Regions from separate parts of the Homo sapiens genome. Here region 2 is linked to region 1. Evidence: fine-mapped expression QTL. Tissue or cell type: thyroid. Region 1 holds a variant in brackets; the other region holds the start of a gene. All regions are shown on one strand. Distances are between the middles of the regions. Region 1 overlaps GLDC (glycine decarboxylase). Region 2 holds the start of GLDC (glycine decarboxylase).

What was found. PIP is the estimated chance that this variant, and not a neighbour inherited with it, causes the effect.
Region 2: GLDC starts here. The variant in region 1 is fine-mapped to the expression of GLDC in thyroid (GTEx, PIP above 0.99).

The regions. Positions count from the first base shown.
Region 1 is chr9:6,608,757-6,611,480 of GRCh38, forward strand. GLDC (glycine decarboxylase) reads right to left here. Exons shown (of 25, transcript NM_000170.3): 4 at 1,436-1,600. Among named protein-coding and RNA genes, the nearest start is that of GLDC, 36 kb to the right of the region's middle. The variant C/T (reference allele first, on the strand shown) is at 1,570.
Region 2 is chr9:6,644,785-6,647,748 of GRCh38, forward strand. It overlaps GLDC (glycine decarboxylase), which reads right to left and starts at 945. Exons shown (of 25, transcript NM_000170.3): 1 at 461-945. The coding sequence starts at 715. RefSeq lists enhancers at 155-712, 1,693-1,802, 1,853-1,952, 2,939-2,964 and silencers at 393-462, 503-702, 773-1,022.

The DNA of each region.
Region 1 (2,724 bases):
TAAATTAATAAATAATAAATAAATAAATGAAATAAGATAAAAAGCAATTTTTTAAAAAAAGAGGGAAGATGAAAATTAGCAAAAAGCTGAGAATAATAACCAGAGAGGTGGGTGGATGGCACTCTTTTGTGGCTGTGTGTCCCTGACAGAAGGGAGAACCTGAACCCACCCCCAACGGCTGCTCAGGAATCAGAAAGGCCTATGGCTGGAATGCACCAGAGGCCTCTAAACTTGCTGACCAAGTATGGAGCTCACTCCCCACCCCAACTCTGCATAAGCCAAAAAAGAGGCTTACATGGGCATTCAGGGCTAGGAGCACAAAACCTAAGACACGGCCAGCATGTGTGCGTCTTTCCCAACCAGATGGCCATCTACATGAGAATTCCACCAGGAAGGTACACTCCTAAGTACTGGCAAGGCAAATAAGGGAAGCAGAAGAAATGGAGAACCATCCTGATTCAGTAAGTCCACTTCCAGAAATGGCTCTTCAGGAAATAATCAGAAGTTTTGACAAAGATTTATTATAAGGATGCACATGAAGTACTATTAATAACAGTAAGAGACGGAAATAAACTATATGTGTAATAGACGAGAGATTAAATAAATTATGGCACTTCCATGTAAGTGCCATGGAGATAATAGAAGTCCTACTCTATGGGCCTGAGAATCCACCCTTGACCACAGTGCCAGGACCTTTGTCACTACCCTCTTACAACCCCACCAAACAGAGACCCTCATGCCTTTACACTCAGCTATGCTGCCAAGGTTTGGAACAACGGAGAGGCTCCCGGGCACTCAGTCATGTGTGTGTGTTATGGGGGAGATCCTCACGTCTGACCCACACCTGCCCTTGAAACACCCTCACCCCCACCCCCAGCCACATCTATCCAAAGTCCACTCCTAATTGAGCTTCCCCCTCCCCTGCTCCCGCCCTCTGCCCTCCCAAAGCTAGGTGCCGAGTCAGCTGTTTAAGGTCACATTTCCACCCTAGCCTCACTGCCCTGCCTTGAGAGACCTCACCCTGTCCCCTGAACAACCCTGCTGGCCCACCCTCGCAGCCCCCAGGCCTGCGCTTGGCTGCTTCCCCAAGCCAGCACTTCCCAGTGGGGGACCTGGCACCGGCTCCCTGTCCTTCCTCCCAAAAATAGTCCCCTCACCAAATATGCAGATGTCTTTACCCCTCGCCTGCCAACCTCAGCCCTCCCGTCTGATCTTCCCCAACCCCAACCAAAATCCGGGTGGAGACACCAAGAAGGACCCTGAGAGGAAATATCCAACCTCTAGGTTTTTGAACCTGTTGAGTTTTTCAGTTTCTCTGAAAAGTCATACTCTAGAAAGCTGACTAAAGTAATATTCACAATATACTATAGAAAGAAAACAAGGCCAGGCGAGGTGGCCCACAACTGGAATTCCAGCACTTTGAGAGGCCTCTCACCTGTAGCACAGCTGCAGTGCCTCTGCGGCTGCAGTCCCCTCATCCAGCAGGGATGCATTGGCCATGTCCAGGCCTGTGATGTCACACACCATGGTCTGGTAGTTGAGTAAACTCTCCAGCCTCCCCTGAGACAC[C/T]TCAGGCTGGTATGGAGTATACTGGGTGATCCTGCAAGGGAAACAAAAGGTCTTGTCCAAACTGACTGCTGTTTAGAGAAGCACACAAAATGCTATCATTTCAGAATTCAGTACCTGAAAATAATTTGCCTATCTTGAGGAGAATTACATAACACACCAGTAAGCTTCTTTTTGGCCTTTGTAAAGCTTAGAATTAAATCATAGTAACAATATTACCCTTTGTTTGGGGATAAGCAGTACTTATTTTTCTATCTCTCTGGTGTTGTTTTTTTGTTTTTTGTTTGTTGGTTTTTGAGACAGGGTCTCGCTCTGTCACCCAGGCTGGAGTGCAATAGCATGATCACGACTCACTGAGCCTCAATGTACAAGGCTCAAGAGATCCTCTGGCCTAAGTCTCCAAAGTGGCTGGGACAACAAGCACATGCCATCACGCTCAGCTAATTTTTGTATTCTTTGTACAGCCAGGGTTTTGTCATGTTACCCAAGCTGGTCTTGAACTCCTGAGCTCAAGCAATCCACCTGCCTCGGCCTGCCAACATGCTGGCATTATAGGCATGAGCCACTGCACTTGAGGCTACCTATAATATCATAAACAGAAATTTCATTTGCTATTATCTTTCCCCTAGATAAAAGACCTCATTCACATTTTACAATAGGAAAGCATCCAAGAATCTAACATGTAATACTCAAACATTTTATTTATTTATTTGGATATTTGTTTTATGTTAACCAGGAGAAGTTCTACATGCTAAGAAATTAATAGAGGTCTACTTAAGAATTCTCATTATCCAGTTACTAAGAGTCCATGGCAGTTAACTCTATGGCTATTGAAATTCCAGGATGGAAATGTTTAGAAGGCAACGTAAACATGGATTCTAACTTTATCTCCTTCAATTATTAGCCAAGAATGTGGCTTTGGATATGTCAGTTAGCCAATTTAGTTCCTTCATCCTTACAGGCGAGAGCTACCACACCTCACCTATTTTACTTGGGAGGTCAAGGCGGGCGGATCACGAGGTCAGGAGATCGAGACCATCCTGGCTAACATGGTGAAACCCGTCTCTACTAAAAATACAAACAATTAGCCAGGCGTGGTGGCACGTGCCTGTAGTCCCAGCTACTCAGGAGGCTGAGGCAGGAGAATCGCTTGAACCC
Region 2 (2,964 bases), 36 kb after region 1:
TGAAATCGCCTAATTAGGGTTCTTTTTAAAAGAAAAGGAAAACTCTGAGCAAGCCAGAATGATTTGGAGGAAAGAAAATCGTGAAGTGGGGTGGAGATTCCGCCACTCGGGGTTGGATTTCAGTTGCAACCGGAGCTAACCGGTAAGCCCACTCTTAATCAGGGGGTCTTCCTCCTCTTGCAAAGTTTAGGTCCATCCACAGGGCCACTTGGGCTGGGGGTGGTTTAAAAATGTACACTTTTGAGGCACGAAGACTGGGTGCAGGAGAAAGTAAGCTGTTAAGAAGTAAGAAGGCACGAGGACCAAAGGCACGAATTTGCTTCCACGCCACGGCCCGGGACCCAGGGTGCGGGGACCACGCGGAGCGCAGCAGAGCTCAGGGTAGGAGCCGGGAGGCCGCGCAGGCAGAGCCCGGGCAGGGCGGAGGGGAGGCCGCGGAGGGCCGGGTGGAGGTCCTTACCGCCAGCCCCAAGGTCTGCAGCATCTCTCTCTGGTCTTTGTCCCCAGGGCCGATGTGCCTCCGAGCGAAGTCGTCGTGTCTGGGCAGAAGGCGCTCCAGGAGGCGCGAGGCCCCAGCCGCGGCGCTGTCCCCGCCGCCACTGCTGCTGTCCCGGCTCCGCGGCGCCCAGCACGGCCCCGATCCCCCAGCCAGGCGGCGGCCGCCCCCGACCCCGCGGCCCAGGCGCAGCCCCCACGCCCTGGCACAGGACTGCATGGCCGCGGCCACCGTCCCCTGCCCCGGCCCGCAAGGGTCAGCCGCGCTCTTGGCCCCTCTCCTGGCCTCGGTCCCCCGGGTGGCGGCTGCGCCCGGCCTGGAGCCCCTTTCGCTGGACAGTCGGCCGGACAGATGGATGGACGCTCGCGGGCAATGAATGGGCGCTGCGCTCAACCAAGACACTCGCGCAAAGTTGTGGCTCCACCCAAGGCACCTGCTCCGCACACTTTAAGCGGCGCCCTGGAGGCGGGAGGTGGGTTGGGGCCAGGAAGCCCTTGGCCAATGAAAGTAGACAGAGGGGGAGGGGGCGGAACAGTTCCCGCCCCCGCCCCCTCTTCCTACCCTCTTCCCAGCCCTTCCGTGGAGTCCCGCTTCCCCTGGACCGGAGGCTGCCATCTCCAGTCCTACCCACTCCGACGCTGGCTGGTGCCGGGGGCCGGGACGCTCCGTACGCCGCCCGCCAGGGTGTGGAGCCGCACTGGGGCAAGATCAGGTGGGACAGCCCAAAGACTCCGGGCCAAGTTCCTGGGGGACTCGGCGGAGATGGAAGATGATTCTCGAAGCTCTCCATTTCCTTAATTTTGAGGTATCTTTCTCTGTCACATTTCATCTCAGGGAAATTAATATGGGCAGATGGCGGTTCTTTTATCTTTGCGGGAGCGTGATAAAGTTACTCAACCTCTCAGAGCTTCAGTTTTCTCATCTCAACAGAGCTGGATGGGATTTTAAAAAGAGATTATATGTACATGGAAAGCACTTGAACAGTAGATTTGAACACCCTCTCTATATTTCTTTTCTTTTCTTTCTTCCTTCTTTCTCCTCCTCCTCCTCCTCCTCCTTCTTCTCACTCTCTCTCTTTCTCTCTCTTCCCCCCCACCACATGTAACGCTATGGCTCACGCCTGTAATCGCAACACTTTCGGAAACCGACGCGGTAGGATAGCTTGAGCCCAGGAGTTCGAGACCAGCTTGGGCAGCATTGTGAAACCCTGTCTCTACAAAAAATACAAAAATTAGTGGGGCGTGGTTGCGTGCTTCTGAAGTCCCAGCTACTCTGGAGGCTGAGGTGGGAGGATTGCTTGAGTCAGGGAGTTTCAGGCTGCAGTGAGATGTGATCGCACCACTGCACTCCAGCGTGGGCCACAGAACGAGACTCAGGAAAAAAAAAAAAAAAAGAACTGTGTGTGTGTGTGTATATGTTTTTTTAAATATATGTACTGTATATACATATACGTGTGTGTGTAAAACTACAAAGGATATTTTGTTGTTGTTTTTGAGACGGAATCTCGCTCTGTCGCCCTGGCTGGAGTGCAGTGGCGCGATCTTGGCTCACTGCAACCTCCACCTCCCGGGTTCAAGCGATTGTCCTGCCTCAGGCTCCTGAGTAGCTGGGACTACAGGCACGTGCCACCACGGCCGGCCATTTTTTATTTTTATTTTTAGTAGAGACGGGGTTTCACCGTTTTAGGCAGGATGGTCTCGATCTCCTGACCTCGTGATCCGTCATTACAGGCGTGAGCCACTGCGCCCAGCAAAAGTACAAAGGATATTAAGATAGACATTGTTCACTGTCGTCTTACTTTGAAAGTTAGCCATCTAGAACTGGATTTTTTGTAAATGTACCATCTCCAGCTGTCTCATGACAGTTTTAGCAAGAGAATGAACTTTTAAAATTCCAGTTGTTCTAATATGGGGAAGAGAGGACAGAAGTAATCAGAACATTACTTGTACTTAGACTAGGGGAAAATAAAACCTGTTCTCTTTCTTGCTTATCTGCTAAGTTTCCTCCTCCAATCACCCTTAACAGATTCTGGGCTCCGTACCCAGGAGGCACAGACTATCCAGAGAGGCAGGAAAGTAGAGATGGAAAAGAGGGCAGGAAAATACACCACAAAGAACAGTAGGTAAAATGTCTGTATGGCAGACGGAGGCGGGTGGTGAGCTAGGACGGCTGGGCTGAATGTCTCCGAAAAGTTTTTCGGCCATTTGGAATTGAAATTACAACCTTCATAAAAGTTGGGAGATCTCCTCAGTGCCAGATGGTGGGGGTTGTGGGGAAGGATTGGAGGGAGGAGGTAATCTGCATTTATTCCTATTCCTGTCTATGTTGTTTCTATGTATCAGAGGGACTGGAAGCCAGGGAACAATAATTCCCAGATCCCTTTGGCTCCGTGGTGATGGATGTTATTTGCCTTCTGCCAAAAAAAAACATGTATATATACACACATATATGTATATGAGAATTGGGGC